Linked DNA regions of Homo sapiens: regions 1 and 2 are each linked to region 3. Evidence: fine-mapped expression QTL. A gene starts in region 3. Each other region holds a variant in brackets. All regions are shown on one strand. Distances are from middle to middle. Region 1 has its middle 110 kb from the start of USP31. Region 2 has its middle 16 kb from the start of SCNN1B. Region 3 holds the start of USP31 (ubiquitin specific peptidase 31).

Region 1 (8,183 bases), 110 kb before region 3:
CCCCCAGCTCACAGCTCCTTTGACCTTGCTGCACCCTGTATTATACTCCTAGACATTTGTCAAGAGCCTACAATCTTCTATCGATCCTCTCTCACTGCATACATAAGGAATAAAACGACTGTGTGGATTCGGCTATTAGTTCAGCTACTGTAAAAGAGGGATGCAGAATAACAGTGGCTTTAAAGGTTAGAAATTAAGTTCTCTGTCATGAAAAGTCTGGACCAGCAGTCCGTGATTGGTGTGGTGGCTGCTACTTCCGTCTTGTCGCTCTGCCCATCTCACCAAGTGACTTCCTTCTTGTGACCCAAGATGGCTGCTTCAGGTCCTACCATCACATCTACATCCTGGCCAGGAGAAAAGGAAAAGAGGAAGTGAGGAGGGTATGCTGCTCTCCCTGTCAGGTCATAAGTCAGAAGATGCACGCAACATATGGACATAAAGATGGAAACAATAGATATGGGGGGATGCAAGAGTGGAGAGAGAGTGAGAGGGGCAAGGGTTGAAAAATTACCTATTGGGGCCAGGTGTGGTGGCTCATGCCTATAATCCCAGCACTTTGGGAGGCCAAAATGGGCTGATTGTTTGAATCCAGGAGTTTGAGACCAGCCTGGGCAACATGGCAAAACCCTGTCTCCACTAAAAGTACAAAAAATTAGCCAGGCATGGTGGCACACACCTGTAGACCCAGCTACCCAGAAGGCTGAGGTGGGAGAATCACTTTAGCCTGAGAGGTTGAGGCAGCAGTGAGCCAAGATCGCACCACTGCACTCCAGCCTGGGTCATTGGAGTAAGACCTTGTCTCAAAAAAAATAAAATTACCTATTGGGTACTATGCTCATTTCCTGGGTGACAAGTTCAATTGTATGCCAAAACTGGGCAACACACAACATATCTTTGTAACAAACCTGGACAAGTATCCCTGGAATCTAAAATAAAAGTTGAAAAAAATTAGAAAAACAAATAAAAAGATGTACCCACTGCTTATTCCCACATCCCACTGGTTAGAATTTAGATACATTGCTACATTCAGCTAGCTGCAAGAGAGTCAGGGAAATAGAGTCTTTAGCTGGGAGCCATGTGCCTTTCAGACCCACTGCAGGGGGATTTGGCTATCTGTCTCTGCATTAACCTTCAGAGTGTTACAGATGTTTGTGAATGACGGGTGTTTTCATGTCTTGTAAGATTTGGTGGTTGTCGTCTACTGGAACAACTTTTCACATATTTGCAATGAAGAGGGTATAAAAAAGAGCTTGGCAAGATGGGGGACTTTCTAAGGGAGGCAGCCTTCCTGAGTTCCAAAAATCCTTATAGGGTGGCATTTGCTTTGGTAAATCCCCAAGGTTCACAGTCCAGTTCTCAGCTGATTAGGCTGATATGTTGTCTATCCCCTCACAAAGTATTCACTTCTCTGAGGTGGACTCACATGAAACTGAGGCTGCTGTGTAAACTATAATTCCAAAGTATTTGTTTACAATGAGAAATATAATTGCTTACTCAATCCCAATGGTCAGCGTATTCTTGGCTATGGAGAAAACCACATGGGAAGGCAAATTATAATCAACAGTTTGCTTACTACAAATGAAACTAGCTTTGCATGGTGTCACATGCCTGTAATCCCAGCTATTCAGGAGGCTGAGACAGGAGGATCACTTTAGTCCAGGAGTTTGAGACCAGCCTGGGCAAAATAGCGAGACTCCATCTCAAAAATGAAATAAAACTGAACAAAATGAGCTTGATTAACCTCAAATATGGTGGCCACGATGAGTTTGGCCGGAACTCAGGGCCTCTGACTTCTTGTTCTGCTGCTGAAGATTACCATGGGTTCTCAAGGGAAAGGATGTTCTAGGCAAAATCATACTGTTTTTCTACCAAAAGGCATTTGTCCCAAATATAAACCTTACGCCCCATTCTAGGGACATGCCAAAGTCCTACTCCAAAGGAAGTGACTGCGAGTCTTCTTCCTTGGCTCCTTCCCCCTGTGTTTACTCCTTGATCTAGTGGAAGTACATGGCAATGCACTGTTCAAATCCCCCTTAGAGAGAAAACACACAGCCCAGCATCAAGGAGTGCAGATAACTGACAGCCTCCAACTGGCAGCAACTTCAGGATGCTCGGCTTGTGAACCAAGGCATAATCTTCTTGGGGTGGCCCCTGGCTAGTGACTGAGCAAGATGGAGTACTAGGACCTGGCCATTTCTGCCCAATGAGGACTTCTGTAATGGCCATCTGTATTAGTATATTCTCGTGCTGCTAATAAAGACATATCTGAGACTGGTAATTTATAAATAAAAGAGGTTTAATGCAATCACAGTTCCACGTGGCTGGGGAGGCCTCACAATCGTGGCAGAAGATGAAAGAAGAGAAAAGGGACTTTTTACATGGTGACAGTCAAGAGAGCTTGTGCAGGGGAATTCCCATTTATAAAACTATCAGATCTCATGAGATTTATTCACTACCACGAGAATAGTACGGGGGAAACCACCCCCATGATTCAATTATCTCAACCTGGCCCCACCCTTGATACTTTGAGATTATTACAATTCAAGTTGAGATTTGGGTGGGGACACAGCAAAACTATATCAGCATCCTTTGCTCCAGAGCTCCCTGCTAGGCTGGCAGAGACCTTGTGAGGTCTGCAATTTGGTTTTACAGCTCCTCCAGCACAACCCTGTCTCTTCTCATTTTCTTTTCACAAGTGTTACTCTCCTCAAAACTTTTTGCCCTCTAACTCCACTACAGCATTCTAAAGAGACCAGCCTGCAACAGTGCTCTAGATCAGAGATTGGTCAGCAAATCACAACTCATGGCCCAATCCTGGCTTATAACTTGTTTTCATAAATAAGCTTTTATCAGAACTCAACCATACCTGTTTGTTCATTTACTTATTGTCCATGGCTGCTTTTGCACTACAATGACAGGGTTGAGTAGTTGTGACAGATCAATCTAACATTTAAAATATTAGCTATCTGGCCCTTTACAGAAAAAATTGCATGAGTCAAAAGGTTTAAACCAATTTGGGTTGGGTTTTCCATTTTTCACAACACCAAAGACCTGGCTTAGATTAAGACTATCTCCAAACCATATCCTCATGACACACTGAGTAATCCAGAGAGGAGACTGGGATGCCTCAAGACAGGAAGAAAGATGTTGAGAGGGTTCCAGGAAGAGGTGACATGAGTTTGTTCTTCCATGTTCCAAAAGGCCTGGGCAGGAGTCCTGGCTGCAGGGACTCAGACCTCAGAGATGGATGGTATCTTCATCCCAAAGACCTCTCCTGTGATTGTGGTGCCCTGAGAAGGTATGTTCCCAATTGCAGTGAAGCAATGCCTTCATGAAACAGTCTGAAGTTATTTCCAAATCCTCAAAGCTGAGCAACTAGGGGAATTTTATTAGACATATTTATTCTATAATCCAGCATCTCTCAAGACATCCAGGGTTTTCTTTTAAGCTACTTCTCTTTCCTCCCAGACAGGATACTCGTGTGGCTACTCAGATATCAAGAATAAGATGAAAACATCCCTGTTGTGTTGGTTCAAGCCAGCTTAACTGACAGATTCCTCTCCTGCTTCCCTAGCCACTGGTAGATATGC[T/C]TGCCTTCTGCCTCCATCAGGTCTGTGCTAAATCCCTTTATCATGACTACATAAATGTTAGATTGAACAGAATGAGATTCTCAAATATGAAGGCTTATGCAAAAACATTACTTTTTTTTTTTGAGATATTTCGGTCCCTGAATGTGCTGGACAGGGGATGAAGTGAGACCCTTCTCCAGCAACATTTGGAGGAGGATGCAACTCAATCATCCTTGTGGCTGGGAGCCTTCATCTGCCATGGTCAAACAAACTTTAGATTTGCAAGGCCAAGGAAATGGTTGAAATGCAACATAAAACTGCACTATTTATATTTTCATTTCTATTAGACCTGTATAATGATGCCTTATTGAACTGAAGCTTAAATGGCTCAAGACTGATCGTAATAGAACATTTAATTGTTTGCTTGTCTAACTCTCTCAGCCCTAATTAAATATTGTTTTTCATTGAGTGGGTTATACAATGATGTTTCTTTGCTGTCACTGAAGAGAGAAGGGGACTGAGGCAGAATTTAGATGAGCCAGGCTCACTTTGTGCACTCCTCCTATTCTGTTTTTTGGTCCAACAATGGGAAGCAGAGCCCTCTGGGGGGAGACTTACCCTGATCCAGGGAACAGCTTTTGGAGATGATCTCATGCAAGTCCTCAGAGAGGAAGAGGAGTTATGAGAGATCATGTTATCTTGTGTGGTTTCCTATAGAAGGCACAGGTTCTTGATGTTCAAAGTTGGCATTGGCATCTTTCTAACTCCTCTTTCTCCCTAACACCCATCCCCACAGCACTGCCTTTGGTATCCCTGGAATCTAGCCACTTCTCATCACCTCTGTGCCATCATCCAGGGCCAAGCCACTATCACCTCTCATCTAGGTCATTGCAGAAGCCTCTTAACTGGCTGCCTGCACTTATCTGGGCTTTACCGCAGTCTGTTCCCAACCTATCAACCACTGGAAGGCCCTGTCCCTCCCCATCTCAGAACCTTTCTGTAGCTCCCAGCTCGCTCAGAAAAAAGCCAAGTTTCCATCTGACAATGCCCTCCATCCTGATATTACCTATGACTACAGCTCCAATGACACTGCCCTTCACTCATTCAGCTCCATCTAAACTGAGCTCTTTGCTGTTTTCTCGAATAGTCTTCACAATGCTTCCTCTTTAGGGCTTTTCATTTGTTGTTACCACTACCTATAATATGTCTCCCTCAGAAATCTGCACAGCTCACTCATTCACATTCTTTGTGCCTTTATTCGAATGTCACCTGTCAGGGAGGCCTCTAACTGCCCTATTTAAAATTGCAACCAACTCACCCTCTCTATCCTTCATCCATATTTTTCTCTATGGATCTTACTACTATTTGACATATATTTCAGTTGACCTATTTATTGCGTTTATTGTGTATCTCCCCTTCCAAAATGTGAGCCCTAGGAGGGCAAGGATTTTTCCCTCTTGCTTTCACTTCTGAATCCCCAGTGTCTAGAAAAACACCCAGAACAAAGTAGCTGCACAAATAAATATTTTTGAGCGAATGAATGAGTAAACAAATAAATGTAAACATGCACAAATGAATGAATAGTCTGTCATTTCTTTCTGGCCATGAATTCCAATGGTCAAGATCTACTCTAGGCCAGGAGCCTGGATGTATTTGTACCTTGCATTCTAGGATTCTGGGCATTCAAGAGGAAATCTTCCCATTGGAGATGGAGCTGCAAAGGGCAAACTGAGATCCAGAGCTCAGAATTGCCCCAGCCTTCCTGCTGCAAATGCTAATTCTTCTAAGACTAAGGCAAAATGGTGAAAGAGGTGGGAGCTTGAGCCTGAGCTCAGAAACAGGCTCTGATTTACAGCAAGAGAAGAGGCAAATTGACACAAGAAGCTTCTGTGGAGGCATCAGAGACCAGAGACAATTTAGTGAATGAATAAGGCATCACTGTAACCACCCATAGAGTCCATGGGTGCTGGGGATCCTGGGAATAATTTTATCTTTTAAAGCATGAGGACAACCCAGCAGAACTTTCTGGAAGAGGAAGAAGGAAGGGAAGTGGGATAGCCAAGACCGTCCCCCTTGTACTGGATCTACAGGATCATGGAGACCAAAACATGTGGCCCATTTGCAGGACCAGAATGATTGAGATGCATCCTCCTCTGAATGCTGTTGAAGAAGGATCCCACCTCATACCCTGTTCAGCAAGTTCAGGGGCCCAACATCCCACAAAAAAGTAATATTTTTGCATAAGCCTTCAAAAGCTCATTCAGTTCAATCCAACATTTATATATTCATCACATTTTCAAGGCATGCACGTTAGATATTTTGACAGGTGTGTCAAACCACTCACCAAAAACGTTGTGCCAAGGTATGCTGTCCTTTTCTCATGCCTTACACTGAATATCTGTGTTTCCTTTTGTGTCAGGGGGAATTAAACTTTCCAGAGATTTGTCTATTTTATTCATCACTTCAAAGTTCTGATTCTTGATTTGATTAATCACCTCCACCAACTTTTTGTTTTGTGATTAATGTTTGCTCTCATCTCTATTAATTGCTTCCTTTCACTTTACTTTTATTTTGCTGTTCATTTTCTACTTATTTTGAATTCTTAATTCAATTATTCTCAATAACCATATTTATTTTAATAATAACAGCTTTCAAATATGGATTTTGCTAAGAATAACTTTAGTCCCACCCCCTCATATGTATTTTTAGACAGTGGGTTTCATTGTCTTAAATGTCTAAATAGCCCACTCTTTCAGTATTGATTTCCACCTTGATAAAAGGTTACTTTTTACATTCTTTAATTTCCAAGTAGCTATCATTTGTCTTAATTTAGGCAAACTCTTGCTGTTAATGAGATCAGGAAATATAATTTATAAACTCGTAACTTGGAGAATTTGTTACGGACTTCTTTATAACCTGGTACACAGCATTGCAACAGTCAGGGTAGGTCAGGTTAGGCTGCAGTAACAAACGACCAAAAAAAATCTCAGTGGCTTCAATAACAAAGATTGGTCCCTGCTCATGCTACATGTTTCTGAGCAGTCAGCTGGGAGTTCTTCTTTTTAGAGTCACTCAGGGACTCAAGCCAATGGAAGTTCCATCTCGACATGTGCTTCTGTGATCACAGAGGTGGAGGAAAGAGAGCATGGCTCTTAAAGCCATTCCTGTGCACATTTCATTGACCAAAAAAATTCAAATGCCTACACTTAAGAGCATGGATGTCTTGTTCTGTAAAAGGAGAAGCACTGAATATTCCTGAATATTCTACCATATGCATTTAACAGATGTCTATAAAGAGCTATGGAGATACCTCCTGCTTATGCCAGGGACTGTCTGGCAGATATTGTTAGTTGGTGACCTGCCTTCCATTCCATTTCCAACCCTCTTTTTCCCATCTACTTTCCAGCCAGAAGTGACCATGACCCAAATATAAGTAGAAGGGGCAGGTGGCAGGGGTCTCAAAAAAGCGTTTTGCTTTTGCTTTTCTGCTATTGATGCTGCCCTGTCTCCCCTCTCCTCCTTCCTGCCTTGACTGCTAATGTGAAAAGGCCAAAGAATCCCAGAAATATTTGCTTTGACATTGTTGAGCATCTGAACTAAGGCCAAAGGTGCCTGCCTCCAGACTTCATATATGAAGAGAAAAAATAAAATTACCCAGGTGCAGTGGCTCATGCCTGTGATCCCAGCACTCTGGGAGGCCGAGGCAGGTGGATCACTTGAGGCCAGGAGTTCAAGACCAGCCTGGGAAGCATAGCAAGACACCATCTCTAAATTTTTTTTTTAATTAGCAAGGCACGGTGGTACAGGCCTGTAGTCCCAGCTGCTCAGGAGGCTGACGAGGGAGAATCACTTGGGCCCAGGAGTTTGAGGCTGCAATGAGCCAAGATTGCACCACTGCACTCCAGCCTGGGTGACAGAGCAAGAACCTGTCTCCAAACAAACAAACAAACAAACAAAAGACTCATATTTGTATAAGCCATTGTGGTTGAATTTCTTGTTACTTTCATCTGAATGCATTTCTGAGCGATTTCAGCATGTAAACAAGACAGACCGTTACCACCCTCAGTGACTAATAATCCTTTGGAAGTATTCTGTGAGCAACTGAAAAGGGTGCTAAATATGCATTTCTAAATACAGCCATACCTCAGAGATATCATGGGCTCAGTTCCAGGCAACCACAACAAAGCGAATATTGCAACAAAACAAGTCGCATGCTTTTTTTTTATTTCCCAGGGCATATAAAACTTATAATGGGCTGGACACAGTGGTTCACTCCTATAATCCCAACACTTTGGAAGCCAAGGCAGGAGGATTGCTTGAGGCCAGGAGTTCGAGACCAGCCTGGGCAACATACAAAGACCCTGTCTCTACAAAAAAAAAAAAAAAATGTAATTAGCCAAGCATAGTCACACATACCTGTAGTCCCAGCTACTCAGGAGACTGAGATGGGGGGTTCACTTGAGCCCAGAAGGTCAAGGCTGCAGTGAGCTGTGATCATGCCACTGCACTCCAGCCCCGGCAACAGAATGAGACTGTCTGAAACAGGCAAACAAACAACAACAACAACAAAGTTATATTTATATTATACTGTAGTCTATTAAGTGTGTGATAGCA
Region 2 (8,176 bases), 140 kb after region 3:
AAATAAGTACAGATAAAGAAAGGAATCTATGAATACTCCTCCTTGGTTTATGATGGGGTTACATCCTGATAAACCCATCATGAGTTGAAAATATCTTAATTGAGGTAGGAGGCATGACTCCATTCCAGATGTGGGGCTTGGACACTGGACCAAATTGAGAACTAGCTAAAACAGGGCCAGAGCAGAAGCAACTTTCCATAAGACACACCCACTAGTGTGCCATGTCAGTTTACTATTGCCATGGCAACGCCTGCCCCCTTCCATGGCAACAACCTGACAACCCAGAAGTTACCACCACTTTTTCTAGAAACATCTGCATAAACTGCCTCTTGATTTGTATGTAATTAAAAGTAGGTGTAAATACAAGTACAGCCCTGCCTCTGAGCTGCTTTTCTGGGCACACTGCCTATGAGGTAGCCCTGCTCTGCAAGAAACAGTCCTTCTGCTGCTGCTGTGTGCTGTGGCTTCAATATAAGTTGCTGTTTAACACTACCAGCTTGACCTTGAATTCTCTCCTGGACAAAGCCAAGAACCCTCCTAGGCTAAGCCCCAACTTGGGGGCTTGCCTATCCTGCATCAAGTTGAAATGCATTTGATATACCTGACCTACCAAACATCATAGCTTAGTCTAGCTCCCCTTAAGCTCAGAACACTTACGTTAAGCTGGGCACAGTGGCTCACGCCTGTAATCCCAGGACGTTGGGAGGCTGAGGCAGGTGGATCACTTGAGGTCAGGAGTTGAAGACCAGCCTGGCCAACATGGTGAAACCCCATCTCTACCAAAAAGACAAAAATTAGCCAGGTGCGGTGGCACATGCCTGTAGTCCCAGCTACTCGGGAGGCTGAGATATGAGGATCTCTTGAACTCGAGAGGCAGATGTTGCAGTGACCCAAGATCACGACACTGCACTCCAGCCTAGGCAACAGAGCAAGACTCCATCTCCAAAAATAAGAAGGACACTTACTTTAGCCTACAATTGGGCAAAATCATCTAACACCAAGCCTAATTTATAAGAAGGTGTTGAATGTCTTGTGTAATGTATTGAATATTGCACTGAAAGTGAAAAACAGAATGGTTGTATAGGTACTCCAGGTACAATTTCTACTGAATATATATGGCATTTGCACCATGGTAAAGTCAGAAAATCCTAAATTGAACCATTGTAAATCAGGGATTGTCTGCATTGTCCCTGAAAAACAAAACCATTGTAGGCAATTCAAATAGAGGAAATTTGATACAAGAAATTAATTACACAAATGATTCAACAGCTGAGAAGCCAAGCCGGAGATGGTGAAGCAATCCTGGACTCAGCAACATCAGGAAACTACTCTCACAGGTAGGGCTGGAGGGACACAGGGAGGATGTGGTGTTACCGATGCCCAGAGCTGGGTCATGCTCAGAACTTGGTCCACCTAGAAGGAGCTAGAACCACAGCAGGAGCTTCCCAGTGAGAAGCTAAACCATGGAGGAGGTGCAGCCTCTGTTGGGAAATGTTCTCTGAATTTGGGGAACGAAGGACCGCCCTGGCTCCTCCCCTTGTCCCACCATCCAATCTCCTGCCAGTGCCTCTTTTTGGCCCAATTTAGATAGAAGTCAATTGACCAGTTGGCAGTAGAGCTTGGGAAATGTACCTTGCATTAGAAATGTTAGGGATGGCCGAGTGCAGTGGCTCGCACCTGTAATCCCAACATTTGGGATGGCTGAGGTGGGCGGATCACCTGAGGTCAGGAGTTCAAGACCAGCCTGGCCAACATGGCGAAAACCTGTGCCTACTAAAAGTACAAAAATTAGCCAGGTATGGTGGCACGTGCCTATAATCCCAGCTACTCGGGAGGCTGAGGTAGAAGAATTGCTTGAACCCAGGAGGAGGAGATTGCAGTGAGCGGAGACAGTGCCACTGCACTCCAGCCTGGGCAACAGAGCAAGACTCCATCTCAAAAAAATAAATAAATAAAAATAAATTAAGAAAATAAATAAAATAAAATGGCAGAGCATGGATCTAAGATCAAACAGGTCAACAACCCACATGTTGGTCTTGTTAGAACTCCAGCACCTCACATAGTGTTTGGCACAACGAAGGCACTCCATAAATAGAAAGAAAGCTAGGAGGCAGAGGGAAGGGCAGACAAACACTAAAGTCTGTGCTCTTAACCCAGAGGGAGCAACCTCAGATGCCTACAGCAGTCAGACAGAGCATACAAAAGCATGGAGTGAACCAGTTCTAGGGAGAGGTGAGGACCATGTCAAACTGGAGAGCACACCCCATGTCTAAATGGGGCAGCCCTACTAAGTAACTTTCAGCCAATTTCTGCCAAGGAATGCAAGTTCAGTGTTGCCAGATCTGCTGACTTCTCAGGAGAAATAGAAAATCCTGATTTTCAAGTTCGATCTGCTACTTTTTAAATGTTGGCAAACAAATCAAATCCAAATGAGCCTGGGGCATCTTGTTGGGCTGGAAAGCAAAGAAGCTTATCAAAGACTATGCGAGTTCATGGTCCCATCAGAAGGACACAGAGGTAGCCTGGCAGGGCTCCCACTTGCTCAATTTGGACCATTTTTTAGTATCAAAAAGAAAGAATGAATAATCCTGGAACAGAAAAAACACATTAGTGGAGAAACTGGTAACATTTAAATAAAGTCTAGAGTTTGGTTAATAGTAATGTATGAACATTGGTTTCTCACTTTTGTCAAAGGTACCATATGGTCATGTTAGACGTTAAGAAGTTAAGACTCTCACTCTGTCACCCAGGCTGGAATGCCATGATGTGATCATTGCTCACTGCATCCTCAGTCTCCTGGGCTCAAGCTATCCTCTTGTCTCAGCCTCCCCAGTAGCTGGGACTACAGGTGTGCACCACCACACCCAGCTAATTTTTTATTTTTTGTAGAGGTAGGGCCTCGCTATGTTGTCCAGGCTGGTCTCAAACTCATGGCCTCAAGTGATCCTTCTGCCTCAGGCTCCCAAAGTGCTGAGATTACAGGCATGAACTAGTGCACCCAGCCTAAAAAAATATGTTTTAAAAAATAATAAATGGGCCAGGCATGGTGGCTTATATGTGTAATCCTAGCACTTGGGCAGGCCAAAGCAGGAGACTCACTTGAGCCCGGGAGTTGAAGAACAGCCTGGCCAACATAGCAAGACTCTATCTGTACAGAAAATTTTTAATTAGCAAGAGTAAAAAAACAATAATAATAAAAAAAAATAATAAAAAATACAATAATAGTCTGGGCACAGTGGCTCACGCCTATAATCCCAACACTTTGGGAGGCCAAGGCAGAAGGATCACTGGAGGTCAGGAGTTCAAGACCAGGCTGGGCAACATGGCGAAACTCCATCTCTACTAAAACCACGTGAATTAGCTGGGCATGGTAGTGCATGCCTATAATCCCAGCTACTTGGGAGGGTGAGGAATGAGAATCGCTTGAACCCAGGAGGCAGAAGTTGCAGTGAGCCAAGATCGAGCCACTGCACTCCAGCCTGGGCAACAGAGCGAGACACTGTCTTAAAATAATAAATACCATTGAATGAAACATATTAAATCTATTTTTAAAGATCAATGAATTCATAATGATATTTTAAAAGAGAAAGAGAAAACAGAAAAGGAGGAACTATTTGTCATCATTGGAGGCAGCTGTTGCATCAAGTCCTTACTCTAAAAATAGTAGTGATAACAAGGAAAGAATTTATTCTGCCCTAGTCAGTGAGGGAAAGAAGCTCTTCTTTAAGGAAGAATGCCTGCTCACAAATGTCAAAGGAATGAGAGCATTAGAACTTTGCAACTCCGAACAAAATGATTGACTCAGACAATGATCATCAATGGATGCTGAAACTGCAAGGTGAAAGGTTCAAGGGAGGCTGGATATTTAACCTCCGCCTCCTGGGTTCCTGTGATTCACAAGCAGCCAAGTCATCAGGCCATAGAGAACTTACTGGTTCTGAGAGAAGAAACGACTTCACAATGGAAGGATCTGGTTGTCACCACCTGAACCCATGAATCAATCTTAGCTTCGCTAATGAGACAGCCTTTCATTTTGAGCTTTCTGGTGTGATGCAAGAGCATACTTATAACACCACCCAGGAAGAATTCTTGCCGATAACGTGTAGCCAAAATCTGATCAAACCATAGATTTAGCTTCTAGTTTATAGGAAATACAGCAGACAGCAGGACAAATTAAATACACCTCAAGAAATCAATCAAACTCTAGAAGGTAGACCATTCTACCAGCAAGACAATGGTCCTAGTTGCTTCAACAGCTCAATGACCTGGAAAAAGGAGAGAGAACGGGAAGGGAAGCTAGTCTAGATTTAGAAAGACTTAAGAGATGGAATCAAGCCAGGAGCCTGATTACAAGTGGCTCACACATGTAATCCCAGCACTTTGGGAGGCTGAGGCAGGCTATTGCTTGAACCCAGGAGTTCAAGACCAGCCCTGGCAACACAGAAAGAGCCCGTCTCTATTAAAAGTAAATTTTATTTAGTTTTTTGTTGTTGTTGTTGTTGATGTTGTTGTTGTTGCTGTTGTTGTTGTTGCTGGGTTGTTTTTTTTTTTTTTGAGACAGAGTTTTGCTCTTGTCACCCAGGCTGGAGTACAATGGGGTGATCTCCACTCACTGCAACCTCCGCCTCCAGGGTTCAAGTGGTTCTCTTGCCTCAGCCTCCCAAGTAGCTGGAATTACAGGCACCTACCACCACGCCCGGCTAATTTTTATATTTTTAGTAGTGATGGGGTTTTGC[C/T]ATGTTAGCCAGGCTGATCTCAAACTCCTGACTTCAGGTAATCTGCCTGCCTCAGCCTCCCAAAGTGCTGGGATTACAGGCATGAGCCACCGTGCCCTGCCAAAAATTAATTTTTTTAAAAAAGAGAGAGATATGATAAAATGCAATTTGTGAACATTGACTGGGTCTCGGTTTAAACCAATGGTAAAAGACATTTTGAGGGTGACCGGGGAAATGCTAATATGAGGAATTACATGTTAATAAAGATCCTGTAATCCCAACACTTTGGGAGGCTGAGGTGGGGGGATCATTTGAGCCTAGGAGTTCAAGACCAGCCTGGGCAATAGAGCAAATCCCTGTCACTACAAACAGTAAAAAATAATACTACAAAAATTAGCCAGCCATGATAGCACGCACCTGTAGTCCCAGGGGGTGGCCTACAGATCCACCTCCTGGAGGATGAGGAAGGAGGATCACCTGAGCCCGGGGAGGTTGAGGCTCCAGTGAGCTATGATTATACCACCACAATCCAGCCTGAATGACAGAGTGACACTCAGTCTAAAAATAGAAAAGATCTGGGGTTCATTTTGTTTTGTGACATGATGGTATTGTAACTAAGTAGCGTTTCCTTTTTTTTTTTTTTAAGAGATGGGGTCTCGCTATGTAGCCCAGGCTGGTCTCCAAACTCCTGGGTTGAAGCAGTGACTCACACCTGTAATCCCAGCATTTTGGGAAGCCGAGGTAGGCTGATTGCTTGAGCCCAGGAGTTCAGGACTATCCTGGGCAACATGGTGAAACCCCATCTCTACAAAAAAAAAAAAAAATTAGCTGGGCATGGTGGTGTGTGCCTGTAGTCCCAGCTGCTTGGTGGGCTGAGGTGGAAGCATCACTTGAGCCCTGGTTGAGGCTGCAGTGAGCTGACATTGCGCCACTTTACTCCAGCCTGTGTGACAAAGTGAGACCCTGTCTAGACCCTGTCTCAAAAAACAAAAAAGTTGCAAAGTATGGATTTTTTTTTCTTCTTTTATTAGCTAGGATATATCTATAAAAGAAAACTGCCCCCGTATCAGTTATATGACTACCCTCAGATTCCATTTGTATAGGACAGCCAGAATACATTCTTGACTCTCTCCTTTTAATTACAAATTTTCAAAATAATAAGTCAGTTCCCTAGTGTATTAGCTGACTATTGCCACGTAGCAAATTACCACACTTAGTGGCTTAAAACATTACTCATTTATTACGTGACAGTTTCTGCCAGTCAGGAACCCCAGCAAGGCTTAGCTGTGAGCTCTGCTTTGTGGTCTCTCATGGTGCTGTGATCAAGGTGTCTGCTGGGGCCAGGTGCAGTGGCTCACACCTGTAAATCTCAGCACTTTGGGAGGCCAAGGTGGGAGGATTGCTTGAGCCCAGCAGTTTAAGACCAGCCTGAGCAACATGGCGAAACCCTGCCTCTACAAAAAATAATTGTAAAAAATGAGCCAGGTGTGGTGGTACCCACCTGTGGTCCCAGCTACTCAGGAAGCTGAGGTAGGAGGATTGCTTGAGATGGGGAGGTCAAGGCTCCAGTGAGCTCTGATCACACCACTGCACTCTAGCCTGGGTGATAGAGTGAATGTCTGCTAGGACTTGGGTCTCATTTAAAGGCTCGACTGGGGAAAGGTGGTTGTTAGCAGGATTCAGTTCCTCAAGAGTTGTTGGACTCGGGGCCTCAGTTCCTGTCTGGTTTTTGCCCGGAAGCCACTCTCAGTTTCTTGCCATGTGACCCTCCCAGCATAGTAACTTGCTTCATCAAAGGCAGCAAGGGAGGGTGCTAGCAAGACAGCAGTGAGCAACTTACATAGCCTAATCACAGAAATGACATCCCATCACCCTTGCCATCTTCGATGATTAGAAGCAAGCCACTAGATCAGCCTCCCCATACAGGGGTGTTGACACCAGCAGGCGGAATCACTGGGGGCACCTTAGAGCCTACCGGCCACACCTAGCACCCTTCGAAGATGACTGAGGAGTGTCACTCTGTTTCTTTAATATGGCTTGAGTCATAGAAGGATTATTCTGGCTCTGTGTGGAGACTCTAAACCAGTGGAGGCTGCGTGTGGTAGCTCATGCCTGTAATCCCAGTGCTTTGGGAGGCTAAGACAGGAGGATTGCATGAGGCCAGAAGCCTCAGACCAGCCTGGGCAATGTAGCAAGATCCCATCTCTACAAAATATTTTTAAAAATTAGCTGGGCATGGTGGTGTGTAGTCCTGGATACTCAGGAGGCTGAAGCTGGAGGATCGATTAAGCCCAGGAGTTTGAGGCTGCACTGAGCTGTGGTCACATCACTGCACTCTAGCCTTAGTGACAGCTTGAGACCCTATCTCAAAGAAAAAAAAAAAGAAATCCCTCCCCAACCTCAAATATAGAACCAGAGAGAAAGGATGGAATCAAATGGACCTACTGTAGGCATCCCCACAGCTTTACTGTTTACTACTCCAATATTTAACTTTTTTTTTTTTTTTTTTTTGAGGCAGAGTCTCACTCTGTCACTTAGGCTGGAGTGCAGTGGCACGATCTCGGCTCACTGCAACCTCTGCCTCTGGGATTCAAGCGATTCTCCTGCCTCAGCCTCCTGAGTAGCTGGGATTACAGGCATGCGCCACCACGCCTGGTTAATTTTTGTATTTTTAGTAGAGACGGGGTTTCACCATGTTGGCCAGGCTGGTCTCGAACTCCTGATCTCAAATGATCCACCCACCTCGGCCTCCCAAAGTGCTGGGATTACAGGCATGAGTCACTGCACCCGACCCAATATGTAACATTTCAATATGATCAAAACCTCACAAATGAAGTAAAAAGGCAAGAAACAGGCTGGGGGAAAACAACAGACAATGGATTTGACTTTTAGAACATGCACCCAGTAGAAATCTGCACGTCTCCGTTTTTTTCCCCTATAAAATGAGGCCGATAGTCTCTGTCTCACTGGGCTATTGTGAGGATTAAGAGAGTTAGTAGATAGAAAATGTTTAAGACGATGGCTGGCACAGTTAAGTGCTACCTAAGTGTAAGCACTTGCCACTTGCTGCTGCTACTATTATTGTTATTGAAATTATTATTAGCAACACTTATGTGATCAAACTCTAGGTTTTGTTTCTTTTGGAGTCAGGGTTTCACTCTGTCACCAGGCTGGAGTGCAGTGGCGCTGATCATGGCTCACTGCAGCCTCAACCTCCTGGGCTCAAGTGATTCTCCCACCTCAGCCTCCCGAGTAGCTGGGACTACACGTGTGCACCACCATGTCTAGCTACTTTTTCTGTTTGTTGTAGAGACCAGGTCTTGCTACGTTGCCCAGGCTGTTCTCAAACGCCTGGACTCAAGCAATCCTCTTGCCTTGGCATTCCAAGTGCCGGGATTACAGGCACGAGCCATAGCACCCCTCCTAAACTCTAGCTTTTAAGGCCCCATAACTGTTGACTT
Region 3 (8,183 bases):
AATTTGCCAGAGTTACCTAACCGGGGGAATAAAAAGGGGAAAAGAATCTAATTATATCACTTCCTTGCTTAAAAATCACCTCTGGATTTTCAACTTGCAGAGGATGAAATCCAAACCAGCATAGCTCACGAAGCCCTTCACAGTGAGTTTCCAACACTCTTCTCCCAGGCTTCCTGCACCCCCACTGCTCTCTATGGTGCAGCCAGCCACTAAATGTCTATTCCCCAAAACCACACGCCCTTTCATGCAACTCCACCACTTCCTTGCCCTGCAAATTTCTATTCATCTTTCAGAACACTGCTCAGGAGCCACCTTTTTGGTAATGCTTTCCTTGTTCCTTGATGCCTGCTATACACAGGATGGTCCTTGAGCCAAAAGCACTGGCATCACCAGGGAGCTTGTTAGAAATGCAGAATCTTGGGCACCGCTCCAGCTCTACCGAATCTCAATTTCCTTTGTAGCAAGATCCCCAGGTGAATTATGTGCACACTGACGCATGAGAAGCGCTGTCTCAGGGAACTTCCTAGATCCTACTCGACTCAGCTCTTCATAGCTCCCTGGGAGGTAAACCCCTCCTTTACTCATCTCCTCTGTGAAGACAGGAAAACCCAAATGCCCACCCTCCAGCCTCCGTGACAGCCAATTGACATGGTTATAGCCAATGAAATATCAGCAGAAGCCTGCTGAGGGGGCTTCTGGAAGAATTTTTATTTCCCTAATGACTTCCTGCCGTCCTGGGTAGAATGCCAGGTGCAGTGGCTGCCATCACTGGACAACCATGAGGTGACAAACCTAAGAACAAAAAGCCAATGATAGCTAAAAAGACAACAGGTGGAAATACAGAAATGGTCTGAATCCTTGTTGGGCCCAACGAGCCACTGAACCATAGAACCATCCACCTCCGGAATCACTGTGTGTGCCAATTGCCAATTGCAACGTTTTCATTGCTTAAGGCACTATCATTAGGGATTTTCCTTTCTTGGGCTGAAGGCATTCCTAACTGATTAAGTAAGCCTTCAATAAATGGGAGGTGAATGAATGAATGTAGAGTGAAACCTACTAAAGGTTCAGGAGATTACTTTTAAAAAGCCAGGCCTCTAAGAATCTGTTCATGTCTGCCAAAGCATGCCTATAAATCAGTCTCTGTACTTCTAGAATTATTGACCCATTTCTGTTCACAGCTTAATGGATAAAAAAGTGAACACAAACTCATAAAAAGCAATGGAAATGTTCACATACAAAGATGCTGTAGAAACTGATTTTCACATTTTGGAAAAGAGGAGAAAACCAAACTTAAATACTAGGCTCTGACCTCGAAAAGTTTACAAATGCTGTGGCTACTTACAGGCAATTGTAAGCAAAGAGGGGCAGTGTGGGGTGGGGGGCGGGGGGTGGACCTACAGTAGTCAGTTCTCCTGATCATTCTCCCTTTCTAATTTTGAGATCTCAGCTGGGCACGGTGGCTCACGCCTGTAATCTCAGCACTTGGGGAGGCCGAGGCAGGTGGATCAAAAATTAACTGGGCATGTAGCGGGCGCCTGTAGTCCCAGCTACCTGGGAGGCTGAGACAGGAGAATTGCTTGATTGAACACAGGAGGCAGAGGTTGCAGTGGGCCGAGATCAGGCCACTGCCCTCCAGCCTGGGCGACAGAGTGAGACTCCATCTCAAAAATAATAATAATAATAATAATTTTGAGATCACTGACATAGATCTTTTTTTCCAGTCCCTATCTCAGTCAAGTACTTCCATTCAAATTGCCAAGATCAAACAGCAACGATTTTTTTCCAAGAAAAACAGCATTGAGCAGCATAAGATGTAAGTAAAAAGTATTAAACGGGGAGAGATGCACACTGGCCATGTAGTTCGTCAGCAAGAAAGCAGGACCTTAACAAAGCAGATCCTCAGCTAGATGACCTTTTCATATTTTAACAAAATCATCTCCTTTTACTTAAATGTTGTTATAAAGAAGCTTTATAGCACCAATGGGAAACCAGTACCTTTTGCCATGAATTGAAGACAAATGGAAACCCAATAAAAACATAACCTTATTAAATTCTAGCTACTGTTACCTGCCAATGCTTCTAGACTTGAAGCTTGTTCTGTTTAAAAAAAAAAAAAAAAATGGGTGGGGGGTGAACAAGAGGTATTAAAAACAGGCTAACATCAAGCTGAGACTTCGTCCTGGGCAAGATTAGGATAGGAAAAAAAAAAAGGAATTAACCTTCTCCCTGTGTGACTTCACGCTGTTTTTGTTTTGTTTTGTTTTTACAGATAGAGTTTCCTGTTGCCCAGGCTGGAGTGCAATGGCACGATCTCGGCTCACTGCAACGTCCGCCTCCCAGGTTCAAGCAATTCTCCTGCCTCAGCCTCCTGAGTAGCCAGGATAACAGGCATGAACCACCACGCCCGTCTAATTTTGTATTTTTAGTAGAGATGGGGTTTCTCCATGTTGGTCAGGCTGGTCTCGAACCCCCGGACCTCAGGTGATCCACCCGCCTTGGCCTCCCAAAGTGCTAGGATTACAGGCATGAGCCACTGCGCCCCGCCCGATTCCATGCTGTTTAATACCATATTCATGTCCCACCTGAAAGTATCCCTTACACAATCTCACATCATGTTCCCCTTCTGCTTAGAGTAACCGCCCAATTTCTTAGTGCATCCTAAATGGTCCCATACCATCCGGTCCCAGCCCACCACTCGGCTCTCAAATCTCACCCTCTCACTACACTTGCAGCCCCACCAGCAAACAGCAAAGGAGGGCTTGGCCAAGGGCCATACATACCCCCAGGGATGTATAGCTCACCCCTGTAATCCCAGCACTTTGGGAGGCCAAAGCGGGGAGAGTGGCTTGAGGACAAGAGTTCAAGACCAGTCTGGGCAACACAGCAAAACCCCCGTCTCTACAAAAGTGTTTTAAAAATAAAAAATAGGTAGGTATGGTGGTGTGTGTCTGTAGTCCCAGCTATTAAATACTCTGGAAGGTGAGGCGGGAGGATTGCTTGAGCCCAGGAGTTTGAGGCTATGTGAGCACTGCACTCCAGCCTGGGCAACAGAGCAAGACCCTGTCTCTAAAAATAAAATAAAAATAAAAAGTAGCCTGTCAGCACATCAATCACAGCAGCAGGTTTTTCTTTCTTCAAACCACTATCTGATATTATCTCGTTAACTTCTTCAAGTCTTTAATAACAAAAATAATAGCAGCAAATACACATGATATGGAAGTATTTTACTTATCAGGTTGAACCCTATAAAAGTGCCAATCTGTAAATAAAAAACGGTTAAATATGGGTAATTCCACAGTGTTCGATTTAATATATTAACTTGTTTGCAGCTCACAACCACCTTACAAAGTAGGTCCCCCAGATGAAGAAACTGTAAGAACAGAGAGGCTGCTTAACTTACCCGACGTCACATTGCTAGTAAGTGGCAGAACCAGGATTTGAACCCATGCTCAACACTCCCACCCCACAAAAATGCAAGTTCCATGAAGGCGGATAGTCTTGTTCATTGCAACGTCACTCCCATTGCCTATTATCACAGAGTATGGGCACGTATGTAGTAAGTTCTCAATAAATACATGTTTGAGTGAGTGAGTGAGTGAATAAATGAATGAATGAATGAATCTCCTTAAAATCACTGGTCGACTGCCCAGACCACTCGGAGCAACCAATGCAGAAGCCTGCCGGGCCAAGAGGAACCGAGGGAAGGAAGACCTGGGCGGGCAGGTGCCCCAGGGGCTCGGGGTGCAGTGGGGGCGCGGCGGCGCGCGGGCTCACCTTGAAGTCGCGGCTGTGCTGCGGGGTGTACTCCAGGGTCCAGAGGGCCCGCACCAGGTGCGCCAGCTGCTCAGTGACCTCGCCCTGGCCCTGCGCGCCGCGGCCCGCAGGCTGCTCCGGGTCAGGCGAGGGCTCGGGCCGCCCCGCCCGGTACTGGCCCAGCGCCAGGTACTCGGCGAAGAGCTCGGTGTTGCTGAGGCACTGCAGCGTGGCGTTCATGAAGCACGTGTTGCCGTGGTTGCGGAGCCCCGCCACGCCGGGCACCGGCTCGGCGGCGCAAGCGGGCGGCGCGGGAGAGGCGGGCGGCGGCGGGCACGGCGGCGGCGTGGGCGCGGCGGCCGGCCCGGGCGGGAAGCAGCTGCGGAGGCCGCCGCGGTCTGGGGCGGCGCCCTCAGAGCTAAGGTGCGAGAGCGTGGACAGCGTCTTGAGAACGCGGCTCATGAAGCTGCCCACCGAGCGTGCAGAGGAGGGCGAGGAGGGCGAGGAAGGCGCGGCCGGCCCGGACGCCCCGGGGCCCCCCGCGCCGCCGCCGCCAGCGCGGCCGCTCCGAAACAGCCGCTTGCTGAAGGAGCGCTTCTCCTTCCCGCTCGCCGCCGCCGGCGGCCCGGACCCAGGCGCCGTTACCTTGGACATGGCGGCGGCCGCAGACACTCATCACCGCGCCCGCCCGCCCGGCCCGCGGCCCCGCCACGGCCGCCGCCGCATCCCGCAGCGCCGCGCCTCACCGGGCCCGGGGGCTCGACGCCCCACACACCTCAAAGCGCAGCCGAGCCAGCGAGCGAGCGGCGGCCGGCGGGGCCAGCGGGCGCGCGCGCGGTCCGCCCAGCTGAGCCGCTCACGTGACGTGCCTCCCGGCGCCGCCCGCCCGGCGCTGAAGCCGCCTCGGCCGCCATGTTCACTGTGGGACGGTAGCTGCCTCTCCAGCCGGACGCGATGCCTGGAGGCTGCGGGCGCGGTCCTGCTGCGTGAAGCCCGAGGGAGGCCATGTCTAGTGTGGGCGCCGTCCCGGCTTGGAGGAAAAGGCTGGGCTCCCGTTGGATGGTGGATCCCCGGGGTGGGTCTCTGTCTTTGCTGGTCAGATGGCAGAGGCGGGAACGTGCAGGAATCAGGATGCTGTCAGTTACCAGACCGTGCAAGAGCTGGTGGACATGGCCCTGACAGGTCCTGGGCAAGTCAGCCCTGTCTGGCTCCCAAGGGACGTTGCAGATACCTACCCTCTGGGTGCCAGCGGAGCGCAGTCACAGACCCTGGCACGTCCCAGCGGGCTTTTCTTCCTGGCTGCACCTTGGAGTCCCAGCGAAACGCTGTTATCATAACTACTTTCCTTTTCATTCCAGCCTTTAAAACTCCTCCGGGCTCTCCCATCATTCATCATTCCATTCATTCATTCACTCACTCATTCATTCAGCAGTTACTGGGGATATTGCAAAGAATTAAACCTATTAAATTAGAATCAAATGTCATATCCCCAGCGGATTAAATTAGCACGGTTTCTACCTGCCCTCTTGCAGCTTACATTCCTACTGGGTGTTTACAATAGCTGTTGTGTTCCACACATTATGCCAAGCATGCAATATTTTCTTTAATCTTTAATTCACCGTCTTTGAGATTGGTACAGTTCTTATCTGATTCAAACCCAAGTTTTATTTACAACCCCTATACTTGACCTCTAAACCAAAGGTCACGAATCCACAAATATCACAGGTCACAAACCCACAAATGAGTGAAGAATCCTGGTGTTTGAATCATCATATTGACTTTCAAGTGACTTGGGTCTCAGTGTTGGGGGAAATATAAGGAATGATGGGGACTATAGCAGACTTCAAATTAACATCTTTCTAAAGAGGTGGCTGCCACTCAGCTCCAGCCAGTTGTTCCCATGTGAGAACAGGAGCTCAGCGTTACCAGATCATCTGATGTTTTAAGAGAAGGCAGAAATCCTATTTTTAAACGTTGGTTCCATTAAAAAAAAAATAGTGCAGGGAGCAAAAAATAGTACATCTTTGGGATGCCTTTAGTCCAAAATCAACTAGTATATGACCTCCTCTCTATAGGCTCCCCTCTGCTAAAAGGGCTAGTCTGAGTCCTGAGGCAGAAGAGAGAAATCAGAGAAGGGAGAGCCCTTCCTCCTTTTTAAAACATGAAGGCCACCTTACACCACGTTTCAAAGTAAATGGTTTTTACCTTTGACCTCCCTCCCCAATGTAAGTAGGGCTCTATGATGACATCTCCAGGGTGCTCTGCACTGTCCCTAATCGGCTCCACTCTCCTCTTAGTCAAAATTCTTATCTGGACACCAGGAAGAAAGCCATCTGATTATTCACACTAAAATGTGAATGCAATGGCCCTCAACTTCTGGGCAGTTTGATCTAGACTCGAGGGCCTTTGCTGGAGCCGTTCCCTCTCCCTTGAACCTTTCCTTAGCTAACTTAGAACCTTTCTACTTAGCTAACTTCCCCTCATCCTTAAAGTCCCACCTTAGATATCACCCCCTCCAGGAGATGTCCCTTCCACAGGCCCTCTTGGCACCTCTCATTCATGACACTGACTTGACCATATTGCAATTCAGTTTACAATCATCACCTTCACTAATATGTGGGCTTCAACCCAGTAGAGACCCATCTTACTCATTATTCGGTACCCAGTAAGGTAGCCATTATATAACAGGTTGATTATTTGGCAACTTTATACCTAAACAATGTCGTGTGTGTGTGTGTGTGTGTGTGTGTGTGTGTGTGTGTGTATGTGTGTGTGATGGAGTCTCACTCTAACAACCAGGCTGGAGTGCAGTGGCGGGATCTCAGCTCACCTGCAACCCCCATCTCCTGGGTTCAAGCAATTCTCCTGCCTCAGACTCCTGAGTAGCTGGGATTACAGGCACTTGCCAGCACACCTGGCTAATTTTTGTTTTTTGTTTTTTGTTTTGTTTTGTTTTGTGAGCAGCAGCAAGATTTATTGTGAAGAGCAAAAGAATAAAGCTTCCACAGCGTAGAAGGGGACCCGAGCGTGTTGCCCTAATTTTTGTATTTTTAGTAGAGACGGGGTTTCACCATGTTGGCCAGGCTGGTCTCGAACTCCTGACCTCAAGTGATCCACCTGTCTCAGCCTCCCGAAGTGCTGGGATTACAGGCATGAGGCACCGCGCCCGGCCTCTAAACAATATCTGAACTTCTTGGTGGGATACCTAAGAACTGCCTTCCCAGTCTGGGCCCCTCTCACTAAGCTTACAGGTCTTATAGGTCTCCACTGAGCCTCAAAGTTTGACACAGGCTTGAAAAAATTCCTCATTGGAATGTTCAGATGATCATTCTTAAAGACTCACCTTGAACATTCTGTAGTGAATCTTTCATTGTCCCTCTCTGTACCACCCCTTACCCCTAAGCTCGGGAAACGTAAATTAGAAACAACAGTGCAGTGAATATTATCATGACCTATACCTTGTCCATCATGTAGCTATCTCCTTAGGCTGAAACCTTGGATCAAAGGGTATGCGTATTCCATATATGACACCTATTGTCAAGCTGACCCCCAGAAAGGTTTTATCCTGTCAGCAACTAATGGGAAATGCACATTTCCCAATCCCAACATACTGTTGAGTTTTCCAGTCTTTTTCACATTGACAAGTTTGATGAACAAAAGATGGCATATTAATGCACTTTTTGTTTGTATGAGTAAGGTTGAACATCATGTGCCAGTCTCTCTGCTATCCAACATCTCAACCAACTTCCTGTCTGCAAGGGATACCAAATTAGGCAGGACCACTCAAGATCCCACTATGAAAACTGGGTAGGGTGGCAGGGAGCAGGTATTCCCCTTCCTACCCCTGGAAGCTAGAGCCCAGGAACATGACCTAAAAAAGACCACCGCCGGGTGCAGTGGCTCATGCCTGTAATCTCAGCACAGGCAGACAGAGACGGGAAGAGTTTGAGACCAGGCTGGGCAACATCACGAGATCCCGTCTCTAAAAAAATAAATAAATAAGCCTGGTGTGGTGGTGCACTTCTGTAGTCCCAGCTACTCAGGAGGCTGAGGCGGAAGGATTACTTGAGCCTAGGAGGTGGAGGCTGCAATGAGCTATGATCGTGCCACTGCCCTCCAGCCTGGGTGACAGAGCAAGACCAACTATATGTTCCTACCTAGACTTTGGCTCTAGAAGTATTGATACACGGTTCGTTGGAGATAATGCAGTGAATTAATGAATCTAGCAGCTATATATTTAGCAGTGTGGCAGTACGGTGGTGTACAGTGTGGGGGTGGTAGCAGCAAGTGTCCAGCTGCTACTCTAGTGGCAAGTTCTTACTGGTGTCTGTGTCCCTGGGTTTCTGCCCAAGCCTGTTTCTCTGGCTCTGTTCTTTCTGTGAGCTAACCTGATAGGTTTCCTGTAAATCCTTTATTGGGGAAACAAA

What was found. PIP is the estimated chance that this variant, and not a neighbour inherited with it, causes the effect.
Region 1: its variant is the best candidate, but not a certain one, in a credible set for the expression of USP31 in T cells (TOPMed, PIP 0.51).
Region 2: its variant is the best candidate, but not a certain one, in a credible set for the expression of USP31 in esophagus muscle (GTEx, PIP 0.61).

What each region holds. Positions count from the first base shown.
Region 1 is chr16:23,032,775-23,040,957 of GRCh38, forward strand. No RefSeq gene overlaps it. Among named protein-coding and RNA genes, the nearest start is that of USP31, 110 kb to the right of the region's middle. The variant T/C (reference allele first, on the strand shown) is at 3,591.
Region 2 is chr16:23,282,468-23,290,643 of GRCh38, forward strand. It overlaps a transcript of SCNN1B not described here. Among named protein-coding and RNA genes, the nearest start is that of SCNN1B, 16 kb to the right of the region's middle. The variant C/T (reference allele first, on the strand shown) is at 4,737.
Region 3 is chr16:23,144,861-23,153,043 of GRCh38, forward strand. USP31 (ubiquitin specific peptidase 31) reads right to left here and starts at 4,592. Exons shown (of 16, transcript NM_020718.4): 1 at 3,778-4,592. The coding sequence starts at 4,410. RefSeq lists silencers at 3,733-3,962, 4,093-4,192, 4,293-4,342, 4,493-4,592 and an enhancer at 4,773-4,992.